Homo sapiens: one gene and its partners. The protein of the gene in region 3 interacts with the protein of the main gene of each other region in a pairwise test. Each region holds a gene or a part of one and is shown on either strand. Other genes may lie near its edges.

Region 1 (3,818 bases), on a different chromosome or scaffold from region 3:
GCTCTTGGGATCAAGCAATCCTCCTACCTTAGCCTCCTGACTGAGACTATAGGCATGCACTGACATGCCGGGCTAATTTTTAAATTTTTCGAGAGACATGGTCTATGTTGCCTAGGCTGGTCTTAAACTCCTAGGCTCAAGTAACCCTCCTGCCTCTGCCTCCCAAAGCACTGGGATTACAGGCAGGAGCCACTGCATGAGGCCAGTGATAAGAAGGTATCTTTGCCATGTACCTACTTGGGGACCAATTTCCAGGTCACTGGTCAGGTGAGGGCTGGCAACTGAAGTATTTCACACAGACCTAAGCAGGCAGCTGTGGCCACCATGAAATCAAGAAGTCAACTCCAAGTTCCCAGTCCCTCTGTCTCCTTCCCTCACTCTCTTTTCCCTCTGCTTCCCTGCCCTCTTTGCTCATTGGCCTTGGTGAGCATCCATGCCACAGGGGTTAAGAGGGACCTCTGAAATAAGAATAGTGGGTCTCTCCACACCCACACACCAAAAGATGACAGGACACACAGGAAACGATCCTTTTCTAAATCAATACAATTTCTCAAATTTATTTTTTTCTTAAAGAAGTACTTCTAATCTCTGTCAAAAGGGAGGTGAGGAAAGGTCCTTCCTCCCTTGTAAACACTGAAATACAGATCTGGGAAACCAGGATCAACACACACAAAAAGTGCATTTTACAAAATATCAACTAAAATATATTTTACATGGATTATGCTTCCATTGAAATTCTACCAGCTGCATTTTCAGGTTCGAAAAAATATTTCCACATCTAAGAGATTTCAAAAGCATTTAAGTTCGGGGCAGCCAAGACCCTACCTCCTGGGAGGAGGGCCTTCATCTCCTTTCCTGCTAGGTGAGGCTGGGCTCCTTGGCAGCAAGGGCCCAGAATGAGCAGGCTCCAAGGCTGGCTCTGCAGAGCCCCCACTGCCACTCTGCCAACCTCATTTACTGCCCCATCCTCCCAGACAGACACCTTCCTCCAAACAGCTTATTCAATATAAGGAGATCCAAGTCCCTTCCCTTCAGGTTTGGGATCAGGCTTCCCAAGCATAAATTCACCTCTGAAGCCTCCAGGCCTCACCCAAACCCAATGACCAATCAGGAGCAACTCATCTACTAAGGGACAGGGCATGGCAAGTTGGGGGAGCCCTCAGGGTTCATTTCCACCTCCCTCTGCAGCCCCTGCCCAGCTGTCCTCACCCAGTGCCACCTCCTAAGCCTGCTGGGTTCATCTGCCCTTCCTCCCTAAGGGAAGACCCAGGGCTGCAGTTCTCAGCCCCAGCCCCTGCCCCCAGGGGTATGCCCTTGTGGAAGTGCTCAGCTAGCAGGTTCCCAGCACCAGGCCCAAGCCACACTGCACTCCACTCCCTCTCCCACCATACTCCTCTTTGGTACAGATAGGAAATAACCAGGCTGCTCCAGCCCCCTCACAGAGTCTCAGGGCCAGGGCCAAGGCCTAGTCTCCACAAGGACAACAGGGGACTGAGCCTGTTAGTCTACTCTGGGGAGCAGCATGAGGTGAGAACAGGGCCTCTGGGCAACAGGAACAAACTGAAAATGCAAGTCCTTAGCTCCTAGAGCAAGTGGCTGCAGCTCAGCAGGTCCGTGGACTGATACAGTGTTGATTCTTGCTAGGATGTAAATTAGTGCAATCTACAAAAGACTAGGGAAAGGGTGGCAGGGCAAGGGGAGCCACAGCACTCCTTTGGTTTGATTTCAGGTGGGTGTGGCTTGAAGAATCACGTGTGAAGTTCTGCAAGAGGTTTCCTGGAACCTCCATGTGTAAGGCAAGAGGAAAAATCTTCAACAAATCAGGTAGCAATTTTCCTTGCCCCCTGCCCCCAACCCTCTCCCAGCACCCATCTTCCCTCCCAGATATGACAAACCCCACAATCATCAGTTAACTTTCTGGGAAGCCAGACCCGCTGGGTGGCCGTCTCTGGGAGGTGGACAGGAGACTCCCACAAGTGGGCCACACCCATGACTGTGAGAGGTGGGTCAACTTGTCCCAGCACCAGTTGCTACTGCAGGGCAAAGGAGGAAAGCCAGAGAAAAGGCCTCAAGTCTAGGAAGAGGAAGTCAATGCTCTGGAAGCCAGACTCTGGCTCTCTATGCCTCAAAGGAACAAGCTCAGAGCTGTGCTGGGATCTAGGAAAGCCTGGTCCCAGGCTGAAGGGGAAGCGGCGGGTCACAGTGGGTGAGGTAAAGCTGGCCCCCACTCCCCCTTTGAGGGCAAGGGGGAGGCTACAGAAGGGCCTGTTGGGTCTGGTTCCTGAAAGACCTTGCCCCTCCTTCCCGCCCCCACCCTCCTAGGGCCCCATTTCCCTCAGGCTTGGCCCAGCCTCAGAGAAGACTACTTTTCGGAAATCTCCACCCAGGGGAACCACAGAAGGTACCTTGGGCCAAGCTGAGAGTTCTGATGCTTTTCTTATACCCTGGCCTCCCCAGCTCCCTCCCCTGGAGCCCAGAACCCACAGGGGCCCCTGCCCTCCCCCCCAAGAAAACCACAGGCCAGCAAACTTAGGCCTCTGTGGCCCCCTAACCAAGTGCTGTGCTTCAAGCAGTGCCCCCTACCCCGAGCCCCACTTGCCCATGGGTAGCCCCAGCATGGGCATGAGGAGGCTACTGGGGGTTCTTAAGGATGCGCCCGTGGCGGAAGTCATAGACATGGCGGCAAAGGAACACCAGCTCAGGGTCCGTGTCCTCTGGCACTGTGCGGTGGGGTGGGGTGGAATAGTCTGCAGAGGGGGGAACCAGTGCTGTCTTTCGGCTGGGGAGGCCTTCACCTCGGCGCTTGGCCATGGCACAGAACCTGTAGAGAGATACCATTCACTGTCTTTACTCCAGCCACTTTTGCAGGAAGACCAATTCCTTCCCTACCCTACCCTACCCGACCCAGAGAGCTAGGCTATCCTAGCTCCCCAAGGGGTGGTACTGTCTCCACCCATCCCAGGGATGATGTCTGCTCTGCCAACCACCAGGCTATCTTCTCTGTCACTGGAGAACCACACTTGCCAGGGCCTCTCTCCATTTGCCTGCCAATTCGCCTAAATTTTTTCCAAGAGCAGTAATGTTACCCCCCAACTCTGCTCCAACCATTCTACCTCAGTGTGGCAACACAATTTTTCTTCTTTCTTCCAAAAAATATCAGATGGTAGAGGCAAGCAATAGGGAAGTAAGTTCTGGGAGATTAGGCTCAGTGAGTAAGATCAGGTAGAGAGCAGAATGAGATCCTCTCGGGGAATTCCAAGCAGCCCCAAATATGCCTGGGGAGCCTGAGGGAAGAGGCCAGCCAGAGGGTGCAGGGAACCACCTACCTGCAGTACTCGGCAAAAGTCAGCACATAGCACTTCTCCTCAATGCAGGCCACACTGTTCTGGTCCTGATGTCGCGATGCAAACACTTCATTCTGCAAGGGCTCAAAGGGAGACAGGTGGAGGTTGTTACCAGGGCTGGAAAGCACCTCATTCCCAGAGCAAGGCAGACATTAACCCCTCTGCTGGGCCTGCTGACCTGAGATGACTCCAGCAAGCTTCCCTGGAAATTCAGCCTAAGTATGCCTCACCTACTGCCTCCAGGCATTCCTCCTGAGTCCCTTCTAGGTCCCCCCCTTCTCCAGAATAGCCAGGTATCTGCTCTAGCCCCTGATTGTCACTGACCTCCCAAACCCCAGCCCTGCCTAGCGTAGGAGAGGGGAAATGTTCTTCATCTTTCCAGTTAGATGGAAAGTCCCTGCAAGGGAAAGTGAAATAAAAGGTGAGCCCAGGGCACACACAGATGGCAGTCACCTCTTTTAGCACACAGCTTGG
Region 2 (7,034 bases), on a different chromosome or scaffold from region 3:
TTTTCTTTAGGCTTTGGGGAGTGCTTGTGTAAGCATAAGAAAGGCTTGTATCAGAAAAATCAGGGGAGTAGGGAGTATCCACATGGTGGGGGACTTTTGTGGGTTTATTCGCTGTGTCAGGAAGGACCACCAGTCCCCAGTCTCTGGGCAGGATGTTCTGGACAGACGGACGGGAAGAGCAAAAGTGCCAGTGTGCCCAGAGACAGCAAGGAGGTCAGTGTGCCTGGAAATGGACAAGGCCAGGGAGCAGTGAGCACAGGAGGGCGCTGTGGCTGCAGTGGGAACTTCGTCTTTTACTCCAAATGAGCCAAGCTGATGCGGGAGGGTTTTGAGTAGAGGACTGCCCTGTGGGACTAACTGAGCATGCGTGACTGTCATGATGGCCGATGAGCTTGGTATGTGCCAGGCATCATGTTGTTGTGCTGTCTTCCAGGTGAGGTTTAGCCCATGTTCCACAGCTGTCCATGGCAGCTTTGGCCTCAGCCCCAGTGATCTGAGAGTCCGTTGTCCAGAACACTGGACTAGCAGCTTCATGGTCACCTGTGGATTTTCTTTCAAGGTGATACTGAAGCTCTATTGGGAATGGGAACAGGTAGTTCTGTGAAAAATATGAGATATTTTATCTTCTTCCTCAAAGGATGCCTGAGCTTTCTTATCCTGTAGTATCCCTGACAGACCTGTTAGAACACCTTCATTCTTAGGAGCAATTTTCATCTTCTACACCTTTTGTTTATGTGACTTTTTGAAGCTTTCTTTCTTTCTTTTGTTTTAGAGATGGAGTTCTGCTCTGTCCCCCAGGTTGGGTGCAGTGGTGCGATCTCAGCTTACTGCAACCCCCGCCTCCTGGGTTCAAGTGATTCTCCTGCCTCAGCCTCTCGAGTAGCTGGGATTACAGGCATGCGCCACCACGCCCGGCTAATTTTGTATTTTTAGTAGAGACAAGGTTTCTCCATGTTGGCCAAGCTGGTCATGAACTCCTGGCCTCAGGTGATCCGCCCGCCTTGGCCTCCCAAAGTGCTGGGATTACAGGTGTGAGCCGCCGCGCCCTGCTGACTTGTTTAAGCTTTCTAATTAGAATTTTATTCATCTGCCTTGTATTCAAGTTTGTAAAACCCTGAATTGTGATTTTATTAGGAGTCTAGGAAGTCACCAGCTATTCCTCAGGTATAGTTTGTGAAACACTGAATCTTTTGGTGGCAGGCGTGTCCTTCCCCATCTCTGCAAGCCTTGGTCTTGGGAGGAGGAACTTAAAACTTGGGGGGAATTTAATGGAATTCTGACTGCTTTTTTTTTTTTTTTAATTTTGAACCTGATTTCATTCCAAAGGTGTGTATAAATACATAGGCTGAGCCTTTGGAGCCTATATCTGATGTCTCTTAACTCTGCATTAATGAGTAAAATTGTATTTGGTTGACATTTGGATACAAATGTCTATCTTACATTTCTTCCTAGGTACCAGCAACTAAGGTTTCAGAGCTGAACCCTAATGCAGAAGTGTGGGGGGCTCCTGTGTTACATCTGGAAGCAAGCAGTGCTGCTGACGGTGTGAGTGCTGCATGGGAGGAGGTGGCTGGCCACCACGCAGACCGTGGCCCGCAGGGTAAGTTGAGCATGGCCGTGGTGTGCAGCCCCCTGCTTTCAGGCCTGTGCTTTTGTTGCCATTTTAATCTGTCTTTAAGATGTTGTTCATTCATAACTGTGTCATGGTATGTGGCAGTGCTTGAGAGCCCAGAGGTCTTTTACAGTCTAAAGAAGTTGAGTCACTGCAAGTGTAAGCTTTGTTTTAAGAGAAAGTTATGCTTCTAACCCTGCCTTTTTGGGGTAAACTCCTAATTGTAGGATCGGATGCCAATGGTGATGGTGACCAGGGCCATGAGAATGCCGCATTGCCAGACCCGCAGGAGTCGGACCCAGCAGACATGAACGCTCTCGCTCTGGGTCCCTCAGAATATGACTCTCTGCCTGAAAATAGCGAGACAGGTAAACATATCTTATGGGTGCATTTTCCCAGGGAATATGGGCTGCTTTATTTATTTTTTTTATTTAGAGTATTAACATTCTCTACACAATGGGTCTTTCTTTGCCTGCTTTTAATTCTACTTTAAACTCACCCTTATGTGGATGCAGAGAAGATGAGAGGCCCTGGTTAGGGAGGTGCCATGGAGGAATGTAAGGTCTCAAAAGATGAAACCTGGGCCGGGCGCGGGGGCTCACGCCTGTCATCCCAGCACTTCGGGAGGCCGAGGCGGGCAGATCACGAGGTCAGGAGATCAAGACCATCCTGGCTAACACGGTAAAACCCCGTCTCTACTAAAAAAAAAATACAAAAAAAATCAGCTGGGCGTGGTGGCGGGCGCCTGTAGTCCCAGCTATTTGGGAGGCTGAGGCAGGAGAATGGCGTGAACCTGGAGGCGGAGCTTGCAGTGAGCCGAGATCGTGCCACTGCACTCCAGCCTGGGCGACAGAGCGAGACTCCATCTCAAAAAAAAAAAAAAATGAAACCTATTTAGTAGTGCGAAGTGTCAGTAAAAGTGCAGAGGTGGAACGTTAATGTTGGATTTGAGAGTAAGACAGTTTGGGTAAAGGGAGGGGGATAGAGAGGGAATGCTGTGGTATTGTAGGTAGGGGCAATTGAGGCCCCATTTGCAAGTCTTAGAAGCCATTCACATTTGAACTTCTTTCCTGTTGATGAGGAAATGAGTGACATGAAGAAAATAAGTTGTTTGGGGAAGGTAAATTTTGCAGGAGTGTGAAAGAATGGCTTGGAGGAAAGCAAATGTAAGACCATCTGGATAGAATCTCTGTTGTTCTCATGTAGGGTTGTAAGTACCTTAGTATGTAGTAGTGGCTAAAAAACGGAAAGGAAGAGAGTAGGTGGGAAAGGAGATGTTCAGGCCCAGTTATGGAGTGTACCACACGTTACTGGAAATGCAGGAACTTTTTCATGTTTTCATTTTTTTTTTTTGAGACGGAGTCTCACTGTCACCCAGCCTGGAGTGCAGTGGTGAGACATCGGCTCACTGCAAGCTCCGCCTACTGAGTTCATGCCATTCTCCTACCTCAGCCTCCTGAGTAGCTGGGACTACAGGCGTCTGCCACCACGCCCGGCTAATTTTTTGTATTTTTAGTAAAGATGGGGTTTCACCATGTTAGCCAGGATGGTCTCGATCTCCTGACCTTGTGATCTGCCCGCCTCGGCCTCTCATGTTTTCATTTTTATTACCACAATTGTTCTTAACCAGTCCCTGTCCCCTCCCCCACCCCACTTGCCATGGGCTTTTCGTTATCCCAGTGACCAGGGAATGCACTGGGCAGGGCTGGAGAGGCCAGACCTCGATGCTGTAAGGCACAGCCATGCAGAATGACTTCATTGGCTTAAGACTGTCAAAGTCAGAAACTGTCACTTAAGAGGGAAAATGTGTAGATGTTCTGTGACGGTTGTTTTTTTTTTTTTTTTTTTTTTTTTAACTTCAGTGGAGCTTATTGCTTTAAATAATTGTTTGGTAAAATGAATCAAGTATTTATAAAGGTACAAAAATTAAGCCATGCTTGTTTCTTGTAAATATAAATTTGCCATCTTGAATTTGCATAAAGTGAATTTCCCGTCTACATGAGCAGTTTTCTAAATCTGAGGAAGGCCAGTATTCAGCAATGTAATTTGATTACATCCCCCTTGTTAATTCACCAGTAACTGGTTAGTGACTTGGGAATGGCAGAACATTGGGATAAACTGGAGTCATGTTAGAGTCCATTGAATTTAAGATGGCAAAGGAAAGGAATGCTCATCATTAAAACAGATTTTTACAAAAGATAAAAAGGCATTATACATTGAGGGAGTGAGAATCCTAATGGTAGGAAGTAAAATGGTTCAAAATAAACAATTTAAGTTTCAGACTAAATTGAAATGACCTAATCTTGAACTGGGGTCAGAATTTATACAGAAGATGGAAGATAGATAGGAGGTAGACAGATGTGAAGATCTGTCTTGAGGATGGAAGATGGGTAATGTTATCAACAGTGAAATAACTTGTGAAAATCTGCCTGAAGACAGGAGATAGATAACGTTACCAAAAGTGAAATAACATGTTAAAATCTATCTGAAGATAGAAGATAGGGAACATTATCAAAAGTGAAATAACAACATGTTAAAGTATATTCTGGAAAGTTTAATTTCAAAAGGTGATTCTTTTTAAAAGGGGTATTTAAAACTATTTTCAAAAAGAAGAAAAAGAATACCTTCTGCTTTGTCTTCCTCCTTCATCTGCCTCCACCTACTCCCTCTCTCACTCCTATAAAGCATTAGTGAGGCATAACCGATGTACAATAAACATCATATACTTCAGGTATACCCCAGATTTTCTGTAGCTTACAGACAATTGAGGAAATAATACATTATTAATGTGTTGCCTCTTTCATTCCTCTTTGCTTTGTCCACCCAGTTTGATAAGTTGTTCTGTACCTGTAAAATCCTCAGCACAATCAAGATCACGAACATCCCAAACACCAGGAAGAGCTTCCTGTGCCCTCTCCTTTCTCCGTGGAACCGGTGGTCTGTTTTTTTCTTTTTGAGATGGAGTCTTGCTGTGTCACCCAGGCTGGAATGCAGTGGCGTGATCTCGGCTCACTGCAACCTCCGCCTCCCGGGTTCACGCCATTCTCCTGCCTCAGCCTCCCCAGTAGCTGGGACTACAGGTGCCCACCACCACACCCGGCTAATTGTTTGTATTTTTAGTAGAGACGGGGTTTCACCGTGTTAGCCAGGATGGTCTTGATCTCCCGACCTCATGACCCGCCCACCTCGGCCTCCCAAAGTGCTGGGATTACAGGTGTAAGCCTTCATGCCCGGCCCAGTGGTCTGTTTTCTATCACTATATGTCAGTTTGCGTTTCGTAGATTTTTTTTCTCTTTAAAAAAAAAGATGGAACTCCTGGGCCCAAGAGATGTGCATCAGCCCCACAAGTTGCTGGACAACAGACGTGTGATAGAATTTGACAGTGTGTACTGTTTTTGTCTGACTTAGGTTACTATTTTTGAGACTGATTCATGTTGTAACATGAATTAATCATTTATTTTTATTGCTGAGAAGTATTCATGATATGGATAGATCACAGTTTGTTTTTCTATTCCCCTATTCATGGATTTTGGGATTGTTTTCAAAATGTGGCTTTGCCAATAAAAAGTGTTCATAAAAGTGAACATTTGTCAGCAAGATTTCATATAAACATATGTTTTCATTTCTCTTGGGTAAAATACCTAGGAATGGAGTAGCTGGATCATCTGGTAGGCATGTTTATCCTTTTAAGAAATGGTAAGGCAGTTTTCCAAAGTGGTGGTACCATTTTCTATTCTCAACCAGTGGTGGATTAAAGCACCACATCCTTATGACCCTTATGACCTCAGGGTCAGTCTTTAATTTTAGCTGCTGTAAAAGGGAGACAGTAGAATCTTACTGTGGCTTTAATTTATGTTTCCCTAAGGACTAATGCTATCAAACATCCTTTTTAAAAAAAAGACTGTTTTTTTTAGAGCACTTTCAGGTTCACAGCGAGTTTTAGTGGAAGGTATAGAGATCTCCCATATACTCCCCTCCCCCCCACCCCCACACATGCATGGCCTTCTTCACTATTCACACTCCCTCACCAGAGGGTGCCTTTGTATAATTGATGATCCTATATTGGCACATCATTATTACCTGGAGTCTACAGTTTACATGAGGGCTCACTCTTGGTGTTGTACGTTCTGTGGGTTTGGAGAAATGTATAATGACATGTACCCTCCATTGTAGCATCAGAGAGAGTAGTTTCCCTGCCCTAAAAGTCATCTGTGTTCTGCCTACTCACCCCTCCCTCCCCCCAACCCCTAGCATCCATTGGTTTTTTCACTGTCTCCATAGTTTTACCTTTTCCAGAATGTCATAGGGTTGGAATCCTGCAGGATGTAGCCTTCTTAGATAGGTTTCTTTCATTTAGTAACGTACATTTAAGCTTCCTCCATGTCTTCAAGGCTTGATAACTCATTTCTTTTTAGCACTGAATAACATTCCATTGTCTGGACATACTACAAATTACTTAGTCATTCACCTACTGAAGGACATCTTGGTTGTTTCCAGGTTTTGGCAATTACAAATAAAGATGCTGTTAGCATTCATGTGCAGGTTTTTGTACGGAAGGAAGTTTTTAACTCCTTTGGGTAAATACCCAGGAGTGTGATTGCTGGATCATAAGGTCAGAGTATGTTTAGTTCTGTAGAAAGCTGCTGAACTGCCTTCCAGAAGTAGAATTTCTGGATCATATGGTAATTCTTATGTTTAACTTTTTTTGGTGGAATCACCATACAGTTTTCCATACAGGCCATAGTATTTTACATTCCCACCATCAGTGTACAAGGGTTCCAGTTTTATTAAATCCTTGCCAATACTTGTTATTTTCTGATTTTTTTTTTTTTTTGAAATGGAATAATTCTGTTGCCCAGGCTGGAGTGCACTGGAGCAATCTCAGCTCACTACAACGTCCACCTCCCGGGTTCAAGCAATTCTCCTGCCTCAGCCTCCCAAGTAGCCTAGATTACAGGTGTGAGCCACCACGCCCAGCTAAATTTTGTATTTTTAGTAGATACGGGGTTTCACCATGTTGGCCAGTCTGGTCTCAAACTCCTGACCTCTGCCCATCTCAGCCTCCCAAAGTGCTGGGATTACAGGCGTGAGCCACCACACCCAGCTAACTTTTGTATTTTTTGTAGAGACAGGGTTCAACCATGTTGTCCAGGCTGGGTTCGAACTCCTGACCTCAGGTGATCTGTCTGCCTCGGCCTGCCAAAGTGCTGTGATTACAGGCATGAGCCACTGCGCCCAGCCTATTTTCTGATTTTTTTGATAGTAGTCATTCTAGTGGGTATATCTTTGTAGTTTTGGCTTGCATTTCCCTAATGGTTAGTGATGCCAAGCACCCTTTTTGTTCTTATTGGCCATTTGTCTTCTTTGGATAAATGTCTATTCAAATCCTTTGCCTATTTTTGAATCAGGTTTTTGTTAATGT
Region 3 (7,034 bases):
GGCTCACGGCAACCTCCACCTCCTGGGTTCAAGCAATTCTCTTGCCTCGGTTTCCCAAGTATATGGGACTACAGGCACGCACCAGCACGCCCAGCTAATTTTTGTATATTTTAGTAGAGATGGGGTTTCACTATATGTTAGCCAGGCTGGACTTGACCTCCTGACCTCAAGTGATCCGCCCGCCTTGGCCTCCCAAAGTGCTGAGATTACAGGCATGAGCCACTGCGTCCGGCCAAAATTGAGAACTATATGGCAGTTAGTTTAAGAAAGAAACTTAATAAACAGGGAAAAGTATTAGCCATTTATGACAAAGACATGATATTCCTAAAATCCATATTTTTGTTTTGTTGTTTATTTTGAGACAGAGTCTTGCTCTGTTGCCCAGGCTGGAGTGCAGTGGTGCGATCTCGACTCACAGCAGCCTCGATCTCCCAGCTCAAGCCATCCTCCCACCTTAACCTCCTGAGTTGCTGGGACTACAGGTGTGGGTCACCACGCCTGGCTAATTTTGTATTTTTTGTAGAGACGGAGTTTTGCCGCATTACCCAGGCTGATCTCCAACTCCTGGGCTTGAGCAATCTGCCCACCCCAGCCTCCGAAAATGCTGGGATTAACAGGTGTGATCCACTGCGCCCAGCTTCATGATTTTTAAAAAATGTCCCAGATTAGGTTGGCAGAGATGGGAAATTGCTGACACCTAGTGTTGGCAAAGATTGAGGAAAATAAGCTATCATGCTTTTTTTTCCCCCCACTCAGGTGATCTGCCTTCCTCGGCCTCCCAATGTGCTGGGATTACAGGCGTGTGCCACTGCGCCTGGCCCATATTAACTCTTATATAGCCATAGTCCTTCATGCTCCCCTCTTTGGGAAATTTTGTACCTCATTTGTACTAGGTAACTGCTTCAGAATTTTAAGAGGTACTCTGGTACGGTTACTACCCTATTTTTTAAAGGTAGATCTTGTGTAAATTCAGTGGGTGCCAAATAAACTATACTATATATAGTTCAAATTCCTTTACAATGAAATTTCTATAGAATTTTTTTTATGATTGACATATTTCCCAATAGTATTTGGTAAATTCTTACTTACATTTGGAAAGCATTTTCTTGATTTTGGGGTTTATTTTTCCCTAATTTATTTTTCTAGGTTCAAAAGCTGTCTAAGAATGAAGTGCTCATGGTGAACATAGGATCCCTGTCAACAGGAGGGAGAGTTAGTGCTGTCAAGGCCGATTTGGGTAAAATTGTTTTGACCAATCCAGTGTGCACAGAGGTAGGAGAAAAAATTGCCCTTAGCCGAAGAGTTGAAAAACACTGGCGGTAAGTTTGTTAGTCTTTGCCACTGTCTAATTAAAAAAAGACACAGTCTTGTACAGAAAAAAAAGCACACAATCTTCCTTGAGGACAACAGTTACTGTGGCTTTCAGTCTCAACTATTTATTTGGATGACTTTGAAAACTATACTTCGGCCGGGTGCGGTGGCTCACGCCTGTAATCCCAGCACTTTGGGAGGCCTAGGCGGGTGGATCATGAGGTCAGGAGATCAAGACCATCCTGGCTAACATGGTGAAACCCCGTCTCTACTAAAAAATACAAAAAATTAGCCGGGCGTGGTGGCGGGCGCCTGTAGTCCCAGCTACTCGGGAGGCTGAGGCAGGAGAATGGCGTGAACCTGGGAGTCGGAGCTTGCAGTGAGCCGAGATGGCGCCACTGCACTCCAGCCTGGGCGACAGAGCGAGACTCCGTCTCAGAAAAAACTACAACCTTGACTATAGTCCCATATTTTAGTCCAAATACTGTGATTGGCTTCTCTTCCTGTTAGACACAACCTATGCAAAACCAAATGAATTTGGGTTCGGTATTTCTATCGTCATTGGCTTTGGAAATCATTTCACACTTAATAGAAAAATTGTAAGAGTTTTACAGAAAACTCCTCTATAGCTTTTTCCTAGATTGACAAACACACATACAGATTTATTTACATATATAAGTTTTTTTCTGAACCATTTGAGTGTAGGCTATATATGTTATGCTTCTTGATCTCTTAATACTTCAGTGTATATTTCCCATCAAAAAAGGATATTCTTATGTAACCACTTAGAAATTTAACATTGGCAAAATACTGAAATCTACAGTGCATGTTTCAGTTTTATTACTTGTCCCAATAATGTACTTTATGTTCCTCCTGTTTAGAATCTTGAATTGCATTTAATTTCATGTCTCTTTGATCTTTAATCTGGAGCTTTTTCAGCCTTTGTCTTAATTGACATTAACAGTTCTGAAGAATACAAACTAGTTACTTTATAGAATATTCCTCAATTTGGGTTTTTCTTATCATTCGGAAGCCTAACATTAGATTCAGTTATATATTCTTAACTTAAATACACCGTGAAGTCTCCTTTTCAGGAATCACAGCTAGAGGCACATGATATCTGACTGCTCCTCTTTGTTAAGGTTAGTTTTGACTATGTAGTCAAGATGTTGTCCAGCTTCTCTGCTGTGTAGTTACTCTCTACCCTTGCAACTAATAAGCAATCTGTAGGGAGATCTTTCTAGCCAGTACAAATAGCCTGCTGATCATTGAATCCCACACCCCTGGATGTAGCATCCACTGATGATTCTTGCCTGAATCGAACTTGACTATAATGATTACAAAATCATAGCACCTCTACGGGTTGCAGTATCCTCCCTCAACTCTACCACCCCACATTTATCATTTGGCATTCTTTCTTTGCCATTATTTATTTCCCTATCTAGTTATAATATGGACTCATGGAGTCCTATTTTATTCAACATGTTATGATCCATCACTGTCTTCCTTTATTTTGATGTGCATTGTTCGACGTTTGGCCAGTGGAGGTCCTTCAGGCTGGCTCTTGTGTCCTTTTGACATGTACTCATCATTTTTTTTTCTTCTTCTTTTTTTTTTTTTTTTTTTTTGAGATGGAGTCTTGCTTTGTCGCCGGGGTAGAATGCAGTGGCATGATCTCAGCTCACTGCAACCTCTGCCTCCCAGGTTCAAGCAATTCTCCTGCCTCAGCCTCCCGAGTAGCTGGGACTACAGGCACACGCCACCACACCCGGCTAATTTTTGTATTTTCAGTAGAGACGGGGTTTCACCACGTTGGCCAGCCTGGTCTTTAACCCCCGACCTCAGGTGATCCGCCCTCCTTGGCCTCCCAAAGTGCTGGGATTACAGGCATGAGCCACCACGCCTGACCTCTTTCTTCTTTTTTTTGGAACATTTCCTTATTTTCTGGCACAAAATCTTCCAGACTCATCTTGTACCTTCTCTGTTCCAGTTTTAGAACTGGCCATTTCTCTTATAAATGAAAAGCTGAGTGTTCAGGTGTGCTCATGGCTCTTAGGGTGCTGTTGCTTCTAGGTCTTTTGAGAGCATAGAGCCAGGAAGCATACACACATTTTTGGCTCCTGACTTTTTGCTCTTTCCCAGGTTATTGAGTTTGCCCCTTGCTTTCCATTCCTCGTCACCTCATCACAGTCCATACCACCATCACTTTACACTTCACAGTTAGTGCGAAAGACTCCTAGTTTGCCTCTTAACTTGGTCAAAATTAGTCTTCTTAAAACATTTTCATCATGCTGTGTTTAATAATTTCTAGAGTCTTCTCACTACTTTTTGATATTTGGGACTTTTCTAGAAACCTGCTTCAACCCATTTAAGCTTTCCTTCTGCATTGTCTTATATAAACCCTCTAAATTAGACTGTTTTGTGCCCTAACTGTCCCCATAATTATTCACATCACCCCTACCCACTATCTACTTCCTTAATTATTTATTTTATATTTTTTAGAGGCAGGGTCTCTCTGTTGACCAGGCTGGAGTTTAGTGGCATGATCATAGCTCACTGCAGCCTCAGTGTCTAAGTAGCTAGGACTATTGGCTCACACCACCGTGATCAGCTAATTTTTTTGTTTTTTGTAGACACTTGGTCTCACTGTGTTGCCCAGCATGATCTCAAACTCCTGGCCTCAAGCCATCCTCCCACCTCAGCCTCTCAAAGTGTTGGGATTACAGACATGAGCCACCCCGCCCAGCCCTGTTTCCTTTATTAAGGCTTCCATGCTACTGTGCCCACGATGGTCTCATCACTTGTCCAGGAGATTTATCTGAATTATTGCCCTGTAATTTAGAAAGTTAAATTTTTGTTGTCTCTTAAGTAAATAATTATTTGTGGTGACTTATGCCCTTTTGATTTTACTGTCTTTTGTGATTATATTTTTTTGCTATTACAGACACACGACTTCCAGTGTATTTTGAAATAGATTTAAGCAATAAACTTTCAGTCCAGGCACGGTGGCTCATGCCTGTAAGCCCAGCACTTTGTGAGGCCGAGGTGGGCGGATCACTTGAGGCCAGGAGTTCGCAACCAGCCTGGCCGACATAGTGAAACCCCATCTCTACTAAAAATACCAAAAAATCAGCCGGGCATGGTGGCGCATGCCTGTAGTCCCAGCTACTCGGGAGGCTGAGGCATGAGAATTGTTTGAACCCAGGAGCCAGAGGTTGCAGTGAGCCGAGATCGTACCACCGCACTCCAGACTGGGTGACAGAGTGAGACTGTCTCAGAAAAAACACACAAAAGCAAGAATAAAAAAGAATCTAAGAATATAGTGTGGGCTTTCTTTATGGAGGAGCAGGCTTTGGGAACAAATTTGAATTCAGAAGATAAGCAGGTAAAATTTATCACAAGATTGTGTGGTAATGAGAGTGAAGTGGATGTAAGATTTATGATTTCTTTTATTTTCATTTTGCAGTTTAATTGGTTGGGGTCAGATAAGAAGAGGAGTGACAATCAAGCCAACAGTAGATGATGACTGAAGAATACCAGTTAAATAATACATTCGGATGGATTTGGAAGTTGGAATTCCTCTTAACAACCAAGGGGTTTATTTTCAAAGCAATATTGGGGAATTGATTTCACAGTTCGTTACCTTAGTAGGTAACGGTAAGGTTATTCTCTTTTTTTTTTTTTTTTTTTTTGGTTATGAAAACTTAGGGACTAAAATTAATATAAAAATTGGCATAATGTTGGATTGAATCTACATTTTGGCAGAAGTTAAACATTCCCACATAATGTCAAAATTATACATCATGCAGTTCTGTTTTTTTGTTTGTTTTATTTTGTTTTGTTTTTGAGTCTGGCTCTGTCACCCAGGCTGGAGTGCAGTGGCGTGATCTGCAACCTCTGCCCCCCGGGTTCAAGCGATTCTCCTGCCTCAGCCTCCCGAGTAGCTGAGATTACAGGTGCGCGCCACCACACTTGGCTAATTTTTGTATTATTAGTAGAGACGGGGTTTCAGCATGTTGGCTAGGCCGGTCTCTCCTGACCTCAGGGTGATCAGCCCACCTCGGCCTCACAAAGTGCTGGGATTACAGGCGTGAGCCACCTTGCCCAGCCCACATCATACAGTTTGAAATGAAACTTTGCCACAACCAGCCTTTGCTGTAGCACACACATATATCACTGAACCTGTTTGAAATAAAGTTTTTTTTCTTTTTCATGATTCGTCTTTGAGTACCTCCAGGCTGAAAGACTGTTGTACCAGTAAAAACTTAAAGGCACAAATTCTCCTTGAAGACCTTCTCCCTTTTATGTGGCCCCATATTTTATGTTGCTTTATCTTTGAAATTTTGCATGAAAAGGAAATGAATGGATTCGAATGAAATTGTCCTTTAGAGCATGATTACTTGTTCCCATGGACAAATATTTTTCTCCCCTTGCTCTTCCTGGCCTGAAACACGGGAAACCAGAGTCAAAAGTTATCTCCCTCTCCCTGTGATGCCTTGAGATTTTTTTCTGCGTTGTTTAATGCCTGAAATCCAAGTCTTCCTCCATGGGAAAATACTGTTATACCAAATAATTCTAGATGAGTAACAAAGATCTTTTTAGGCCTTCATTTTATGTTTTTTCTTAACTGTTATATTATGATTGTGACATAGATTATACTACTACTAATTTTTGGATGTTTCAAAAGGTCAAGAAGTAAAAGATGTTAGAAAGCAATGAGTGAGTCCTTTTGATTTTTAACTTATTCCCCATGTCCCTATACTTCGTGTGCTTTTCCTTTTTTTTTTTGAGACGGAGGCTCACTCCGTCACCTAGGCTAGAGTACAGTGGCACGATCTTGGCTCGCTGCAACCTCTGCCTCCCTGATTCAAGTGATTCTCGTGCTTCAGCCTCCCATGTAGCTGATATTACAGGCACTTGCCACCATACCCGGCTAATTTTTGTATTTTTAGTAGAGATGGGGTTTCACCATGTTGCCCAGGCTGGTCTTGAACTCCTAACCTCAGGTGATCCGCCCGCCTCTGCCTTCCAAAGTGCTGGGATTACAGGCGTGAGCCACTCTGCCCGGCTTATTTTTCTTTATGTTTTTGCTTCGTAAGAGGTTCTGTTGAGCAGTGATTTGCAACTCTTGCTGACGTTGCTGGGGAAGCTTTAAAAAAAAAAAAGATGCCCCACAGAGATTCTGATTTTAATTGTTCTGATTTAATTGGCTTGGAGTAGAATTCAGGCATTGATATCTTTAAAAACTCCCCAGTGTTGAGAAACAAATTTAGAGAGTTGAGAAGTAGGTATATTAAATTACAGAATCTTACTGAGTTTTGGTAGACTGATAATACAATTTGCTTTGCTTTTCTTAAATTTGCATTGAGATGGGATTTGAAGCATATTGTGCTCTTGTGAATGTTGAAGTTGCATTGTAGAAGTTTAGAAGCTCTGGCTATGGGTTGCCTAAATTGATGTTTTGAGGAAGCATATTAATGTTATAAACTTCGCTGACTTTGAAGGTTGTGTTGTAGCATGAGGAACACAAATAAAACAATTCTAAATCAAACTAATTTTATATCTAACATGTCCCCATGTGTTTTGTAGGTACCTTCTACCAGAAATTTTGGAATAAGACTTAAAATATAGACATTGTAATTAATCTCATGTAAGATTTGAAACCAGAATTCTATTATAATTAATTTCAGACATCCACATGAATTAGCAAATTTGTAAAGCAC
Region 4 (7,417 bases), on a different chromosome or scaffold from region 3:
AGGCTGGGCTGGAGACAGGGGAAATGGAAATCCCAAAGGGGAATTCCTGTCCCCCAATGCTAGCTATGCCCTCTACCCCCACTGTCCTGCACCAGGGCCAGAACCTCAGCCCACGGACTTCTACCATCCTCCTTTCTCCAGCCCCAGGGTACCAGAGGGCCTGTGGGAAATCCACCCACACTCCTCCAGGCCATCCCCAGGATTCCGGGGACTCACCAGCCTTGATCAGAGGATCCCCGTTCCTGTATCCTCCAGGCACCGCCTCCTAGCCTGGAGACCAAGCAGAACCCTCTGCCTCCCTCCCCTTACTTCCTCACCCCCTCCAGCTCTTCCTCTCCTTTCCTCTCACTGAGGTCTCATCACCCTTCCCCTTTCCTGCCCACCCCCAACTCCCGCTCGGGGACACAAAGATCCCATTGATTTCTGTCCCAACAGCACCTGCTAAGACTGAGCTCTGCCCAGCTCCCAATACGGAGTGGTGAGGATTGAGGACAGCAGAGCCCTATGGATCCCAAAGGCCACACTCACCCTCCATATCCCACCTCCTCCTCGGGGACTCTACCAACCCTTGCTTTGGGGAGCAGTGCTTTTCCCTAGGAAAGGGGGTGTACAGCCGGACAACAGGCCAATGCCCCCGACTCTTCTCCCTGCACAATGCTCCTGCTCCTGTCCCTCTATTTCTACCTAACTCCCCTGCCCAATGGCGGGAGGCCCCAGACACTGCAGGCATGGTGGGGGCCAGGAACCTCGTTGGCTGGAGCATGTTTCCTGGTGATCCTGAGGCAGCGGGTGAGTGAGAACCTGGCGGGGGTCCCTATCACTGGGGCTGGCTGCTGGAGGCTGGGCTGGAGTGGGCACCATGTTGACGCCAAACATTTGCATATGCACTGGGCAGTGGCAACGAGGATGAAACATACACGCATGCACACACAATGCTGGGAGCAAACTGTGGACTAGGGACAAGCATCTCGAGCGCCATGAATACTAGATACCCTGTGACTATGGGTGAATGGAGCCCTGACAGACAGGCAGTGTACAAGACACGCCCACCCCCTCACATACCTGACTGTGGGAGGCGTGCATGGCAGAGCAGCCCAAGCTCACACCCCTCTCCCGGAGAGGGTGCTTGTGTTTGTGCTCACACGTAGGTGACAGATGGCGCCAGCAGTCTCCAAATGGGGAGCAGCGGTTGGGATAGATGGGGGTGGGGGTGTCATGAGAAGGGATGGCATCCACAGTGGGACCCTGTCCTTGGCAGCTAAGCGAGAGCTGGGAGCTAGACATGGAGATGAGTAGCTCTCTGGGTGTGGGTGTGCAGGTGTGCATGTGAGTGTAGTGACAGGGACAGTGAGTGAGAGAGGGAGTGTGCAGGAAACTGTGTCCCCCAGCAGTGCGTGTGCGTGTGTGCGTGTGCATGTGTGCATGCACCCGTGCTGGGGCAGCAGTGAGGGTGAGTTATGCACATAAGAGTGAACCAGTGATTCCCAGTGTAAGAGCCAGAGCTGGGCATGGGAGCCGCTAGAACAGGAGACAGAGGGGGACTGGACCCCAGGAGGGCTGGAGGGCAGAATGAAAGAGGGATGTGTGAGGGAGTCTGTGAGGCAGGCATGTGAGAGACACACAGAGATCCAGAAGAGACACTGGCACCCAGTGTCCTGAAGACCGGGTCTCTCCAGCCTGCCCACCAGGCCAGCTCCCCAGGAGGCCACCCGGGGTCCTTCCCTAGATGGAGCCCCCCAAACCTCCCCTCCCTATCTCCTTCGTTTGGTGGGAAGAATCCAGTAGCCTCAGAAGAAAAAGGGAGCAAGAGAAAAGTGAGAGTCAGTTGGTCTGGCCTTGGGATGGTGCGTGCGTTCCCTGCAAGCCAGCCAGCTCCAGGACACCTGGGCCCATGCCTAGGAACCCCCACCCCAACTCCCAGACCTGGGCACTGCAGCAGCAGCAAAACCAAGAAGAGGAGCAGCAGGCGCCCCAGGGTAAGCCCCTATGAGCGGCCACTGCTCCATGGCTGGGAAGCCAGAGGGAGACGCCAGGCTTGGGGAAACACGAGGCCAGCCTCTGGTGGTGGAATGAAGGGAAGCCCTGTTGAGGATGCCCCTGTACACCACTGCCACCACTCCTCCCCACTCCCCAGCCTCCGGCCATCCAAGGCCAGGCAGCCCAGCTGGCAGAACTCACCACAGAGAAGTTGCTGGCGGAGCAGTGATGCCCACTGAAGTTGCAGCTCTTAAGCATGTCGGCGAGCTGGTGGCCAGTGCGGTTGAGGATGTCTACCATGTCAGGCTCTGGGTAGCGCAGGCCAGCCGCACGGTGCCCATCCCGGTCTTTGGGGGGCAGCCCTGTCAGATTGGCCAGGTGGAAGATGTCGGCATCGCTGAGTGCCGAATGCCGGAAGCGGTTGATATTGCAGAGGGTGACAGCCGGGAAGCCCGCCACTGGGGCTGGGGCAGCGGGGTCCATTGCCACCAGGTGAGGCCGGGTCAGGTAGCCCCGGGCCAGGCCAGCCGCCTGGTACAGGAAGGCAGCCAGCGAGGTGAGTAGGGCCAGTGCCCACAGGGTTCTGCGCAGTCCGTGGGGGCCTGGGCCACAGGCCCGGCCCAGTCCATGCAGGGTGCTGGTGCTGGCAAAGGTGGCCAGGTCTCGGGGGGCTGCTCCAGGGGCAACAGCCCCGAGGAGGCTCTGCTCATCCCCTGCCTCCTTCTCCTTGGGTTTCGCATCCTCCTCAGCAAATTTGATTTTGCACACAATCTCGATCGGCATCTGTCCCCGGCTGCTGGGACTGGCCAGAGCCTCCCTGCCCTGTCCCTCCCTAGCCAGCAGCCCTGGTGCCCTCCCGAGTGGCAGTGGTGGCAGCGGCTGCTCTTCTAAACTCAGGGCAAGCGGGAAGAGGACAGGGACAGGGTGGGGGCCCGAGGTGGGGGAGTCACTCCCACTCCCAGCAGCTCCGCAGCCCTGGTGCTGCCTCTGCCGCTGCTGCCTCTGCTGCCGCTTGTCTCTCTCCTCGATCGTCTCCTTGTGGCTTCCCTTATCAGCACCAGCACAGCTGTCAGCCCCTGCGTGTGTCCCTGCGAGCGAGCGAGTGAGCGAGGGAGCGAGCGCTGCTCCGCCACGCCGCGCAGCCCCAGCCGCTCCGCTCAGCATGTGCTCCGGAGCCCTCCCCACGCTTAATAATTCAGGACATGTCAACAGCGTTTCACCGGCAGCACGGGCGTCAGGAGCCAGGCCAGGGGAGGGGGCAGTCCCCAGCCCAGGACAGAGATCCCAAGACTGGGGCTATCCCCCAAACTCCTGCTGCACCCTAGCCGCTCACTGGGTCCCCAGATCTCCCCACTTCCTGGCCACCCAGGGAAGGGTGCCGTGCCCAGGGTCCTCAGCTCATTCTTTGCCACTTTCCTGGCCCACACCCCATGAAGGGTCAGCCAACTCTATCCCCCCACCTCCTGGCCTCTGAGACTCCTGACTCCAGCACCCAGCCACCACCTGATCCCACTACCCGACTCACAGCAGCTTCCAGAAACTCCTTGAGAGAGCCACTTGTTTGAATGACGGAGGGAGGGGGGCAGAGGAGGGCAGGCTAGACAGACCAGGGGACAACTGTGACTTCAAGATTCTCAGCTTCCCTGGAGCTTTGCTCCAGACTTCAACACCCACCATGCCCCTGCCCCCTCTGGGAGGCTGGCTGCCCTCACCCTCATTTTGCCCCCAACCCCAATCTCAGTCATTCATATGTCTGGGACAGACAGCACCCTGGCCAGCTTGCATATCTGTGGCCACTTTGCTTCCCCAAATGTTCCCCAAATCCCTTGCCACAACCAGGCTTCGGGGGAGGGCTGTTGGGTAAGCAAGCCAGGGAGCAAAGGGGAGGTGTGCTTCCGGGGTGCTCTATATGTAGGGGGACAGGGCATGCAATGGAGGGAGAGGAAGAGCCCCAGTGGGGGCGTGGAAGGGAGCAGGAAGATGTGCTGGGCGTCAATGGGAGCGAATGCTCTCCTAAAGAAAGGGGTTTGAGGGGTGCCTGGCAGAGTGGGGCAGGAGAGCCCTAAGGGGTCTGCTGTGTTCTCGTGGAGGGGAACAGGCATGTGGGCCATCATCATAGGTGGGGGTGGGAGCCTCAGTTGACTGGCCAGGAGGGGATGCATCCATGCCCCCAGGGTGGGGGTGGCAAGAATCAGTGCTTGTGCTCTGGGGCCCCATCCGACAGCATGTGCCCTCACGGGGGAGGAAGCCCTTGTCCCCGGGAGGAAAGGGGGGCTGATTAATCGGGGCGCTAATGAGCAGCAGGGAGAGGAAGCGTGGACGGGCGGGGGGAGGTGGCTCCATCGATCCAAGCCGCAGAACCAGCAGCTGAGAAAAAAAGTGAGAAAGGAATCGATCTGAGGGAAACGGCAGCTGCTGGGGATTAGAGCCCGAGGTCCACCCGCTGCCCAACGGCCACCCCGCCCCCTGCGTCAGGCCTGGCCCCGCAGCCTCTGCCTGGCCCCAGGGGAGGGGCCTAGGGATGGCTCCCTTAGCAGCTGGAAGCCACTTTGCCCACCCTGGCTGCAAGGCCAGGTCAGGCCCCATCAGGGTCACCCCAGCATGGAGCCTGCCCACACACCCAGCCCTGACCATGCGTGGTGCCCTGCTTAGGTTGTCCCTAGCCTTTAGGCAAAGTGGCTTCCCCAGGGACCCCACAGCTGGGCTTCCCCACAAGCCTCCAATGAGTCTGGGTCAGCTGGTTCCCCAAGCTGGGAAGATAAGACCCCTGGGGCAGGGTGATGCATCTGGCTGGGACATAGTGTCCCAGAAGGGAAAGTGGGATTGGCATTGGACAAAGCCGCTGAGTTAGCACTGAAAGTGGCCAAGTGACCACAGACAGCCCCCTCTCTCTGTCCCATGCCCAGGCAGCCGCCTCCTATGCTCTCCCCTCCCTGGTAGACTTCCAAACCTTTCCAGAACTCCCCCCACTGTTCCTCCCCATCCTTCTCTCTCTTCTCCTTTCTCCTAATATTGATTTTTCTTTACTGTTTTTTTTAAAAGGTGATTTAATTGCTTTTTAAGGTTACTTTAGTCTGGGGCTTTGCCAAGAAAGCGGGAAACTGCCCCCCAAACTCTCCGCAGCACTCGTTGCTACCCTGGAGTGCATACATATCTCTAAATTCACCCACCATCTATTGAGATCTTGGGGTCACACTTCCCCGACAACATACTGGCCTCCATCATGAGACAAATCACATCCTCTTTCCTCCTGAGGGTAGGCAGGATGCCTTCAACCTCTATAAGGAAAGAAATCGGGTGGTAACTGGGTATAAGGGGCATGCGGGGGGTGCTGTGAGGGGAGCTCCAGGCTGCCAGGAAGTGGAGCAGCAATTAGCTGCATGCACACCCCCACCACTGCCCCACAGCCAGCTGTCTCCAATTGTCCCCAAGCCCCCAGCCTCCAGTCTCCCAGATCTCCAGGAATCTGGTGATGTTCTGAGGGAGTGCCCCCATACTTCCAGCTCATCTCTTGACCTTTCCCTCCGCTTCTCACCAGGCCCTCTGGCCCCCTCCCTGTCTCTCTATACCCCCTTTGCCTCTGGCCCCGTCCCCTCTCTCCTCCCTCTCCCCGCTTCCCTGCCTGCCTCCCTCTCTGCCCGGCTGCAGTTGGGTGATAATCTCCCTCATTTAGCCTCCCGGCTGCTTCCCCGGCTCATTGCCCAGCTGGTCCCTGGGGCCCGGCCCAGCTTCTTCCCCACCCCCACCCCGGCCCTGCGCCCAAGCTCCCCCACCCCTCCCTGCTTCCCCCACCCACTCCCGGGGGACCAGCTGCCCCTTGCAGTGAGGCATCAGGGACAAGTGTGGCTGGCCAGGCCCTGAGCTGGGTGTGAGCAAAGGGGGCAGGGCTGTTAGGGACCCTGGACTGGGAGTGCCGGGGAGCTGGGTGTTGCGGGGTCAGAATGTGAAGCCTCATCCCAGGTTCCTTTGCTCTCTGGTTGTCCCCATTCCTCAGATTTATTCCCAGTCCAATTCACCTGCCTCCGCCCCCCAGGGGATGAGCTTCCTGACAGTGAGAATGAGTGGTAGATGGACTGGGACGAGGTTTGGTAACAGGGCAGAATGTGGGGGGGGGGCAGTGCATGCAGTCGGGGGGAGAGACAGGGAGAGCAGTGGGTTTCTGGCTCAAGGTTCCTGGGAGGAGGCATGGAGATTTTGTTTGGGCAAAGTGCCCCAAAGGCAGACCCAGAGACCTCCCAGGATCCAACCTGGGGGGTTCCAAGGGTGCTTTCTCAAAGCACAGGAACCCCCAAGCTGATGCCCAGATTCCTTGCCTGGCTGGCCCCATTCAAAAATGCTGTGACCCCCTGAACTCCTAGACAGCATTCTCCAAAAGATGCCCAGCCTCCCTCCCCCTGCACCCAGAGGACACCCTCCCCAGCCCAGACACCTGGCCCTGGTGCGGACCAAGTGATGAGCCAGTGTGGGACAGATGTGGGCGGTAAGGGACAAGGATGGGGGGGCTGGGGCTGGGCTGGTCCAGGCCTGGCTGGTGAGCACACAGCGGTGACAAACGGGCTGTGCAGGGGCCGAGGGGCGGGGGGCGGACGGCGGCTGATTTATCTGGGTTATTTATGCCGCGGACGAGGCAGGAGAAGCGGTTAATGAGAGTCCCAGAGAAGGGGGGTGGGGAGTCCCGAACGTGATCTGAGGCGACTGAAGAGGGTTAGCGTCCCACCGCCAGGCCCTGCCCCCACTGTCCGCCAGTACTCCTTGCACCCCCACCCCATCTTTCTAGGGCCAACCCAGCCCAGCACCTTCTCCCGAGTTTCATACCAACACTTCCCATCTCCTTTCGGGTACTCCCAAGCCAAGGCAACGGGTCCCTGGGACTATAAGGACACCAGGTCCAAGATGGGATGGGGGCATCAGGAGGAAGTGGGGAAGACACCAGGAAAGGGAGGGCAGGAAGATGAAAAATCCTGGCTGGCCAGAAACTAACAAAGTCTGTGGGGCCTGCGGGGGAGGGCTGGGATGGACGCAGCCATCGTGGGAGTGGGTGTGCAGCCGACAACCTCGGAGCTGAGGCTGCAGAGGGCAAAGGGCATGGGGTACAGAGGCGGTGTCAGCCAGTAGCCACAGCGGGGGCCTGAGTGGCAGAGACAGGCTGGCCGGGAGGGGGTGCTGGTCAGAGAGCGGAGAGAGCTGAGGAAGGAGGGGGAGAGGGCTTTGCAGCAGCGAAAGCTGCTGGGAGCAGATAAGGCGGCACAGCAGCAGGAGGGATTAGAGCTCCGAGGGGCATGTGGGGAGCGGTGTGGGAATTGGGGGGTGGGGCAGGGAGGAGAAGGTTGAGGGCAAGACACTAGGGCCAAGGAGATAAGTGGGAAAAGTGAGGGCTGTGAAGACGGCAGGGTTTCATCAGGGGCCAAGAGGTGGTCATCGACGGGGAGAGGAGAGAAGG

Evidence for each region.
Region 1: the proteins of EIF2S3 (region 3) and BAHD1 interact in binary tests that used the Homo sapiens proteins (3 or more experiments, as listed by UniProt).
Region 2: the proteins of EIF2S3 (region 3) and LARP4B interact in binary tests that used the Homo sapiens proteins (3 or more experiments, as listed by UniProt).
Region 4: the proteins of EIF2S3 (region 3) and ASIC4 interact in binary tests that used the Homo sapiens proteins (3 or more experiments, as listed by UniProt).

The regions. Positions count from the first base shown.
Region 1 is NC_000015.10:40,464,944-40,468,761, reverse strand, and holds the end of BAHD1 (bromo adjacent homology domain-containing 1 protein), read right to left. Parts: intron 3,428-3,818; coding exon 3,327-3,427; intron 2,822-3,326; coding exon 2,632-2,821; 3' UTR 526-2,631; downstream 1-525.
Region 2 is NC_000010.11:858,689-865,722, reverse strand, and holds part of LARP4B (la-related protein 4B), read left to right. Parts: intron 1-1,452; coding exon 1,453-1,600; intron 1,601-1,839; coding exon 1,840-1,980; intron 1,981-7,034. UniProt on the Homo sapiens protein: Stimulates mRNA translation.
Region 3 is NC_000023.11:24,071,945-24,078,978, forward strand, and holds the end of EIF2S3 (eukaryotic translation initiation factor 2 subunit 3), read left to right. Parts: intron 1-1,146; coding exon 1,147-1,319; intron 1,320-4,777; coding exon 4,778-4,841; 3' UTR 4,842-6,866; downstream 6,867-7,034. UniProt on the Homo sapiens protein: Member of the eIF2 complex that functions in the early steps of protein synthesis by forming a ternary complex with GTP and initiator tRNA.
Region 4 is NC_000002.12:219,510,068-219,517,484, reverse strand, and holds the start of ASIC4 (acid-sensing ion channel 4), read right to left. Parts: upstream 2,761-7,417; coding exon 2,179-2,760; intron 790-2,178; exon of another isoform or gene 399-789; intron 281-398; exon of another isoform or gene 217-280; intron 1-216. UniProt on the Homo sapiens protein: Does not exhibit measurable stand-alone pH-gated sodium channel activity but may form pH-gated heterotrimeric sodium channels. Its activity could also depend on alternative gating mechanisms.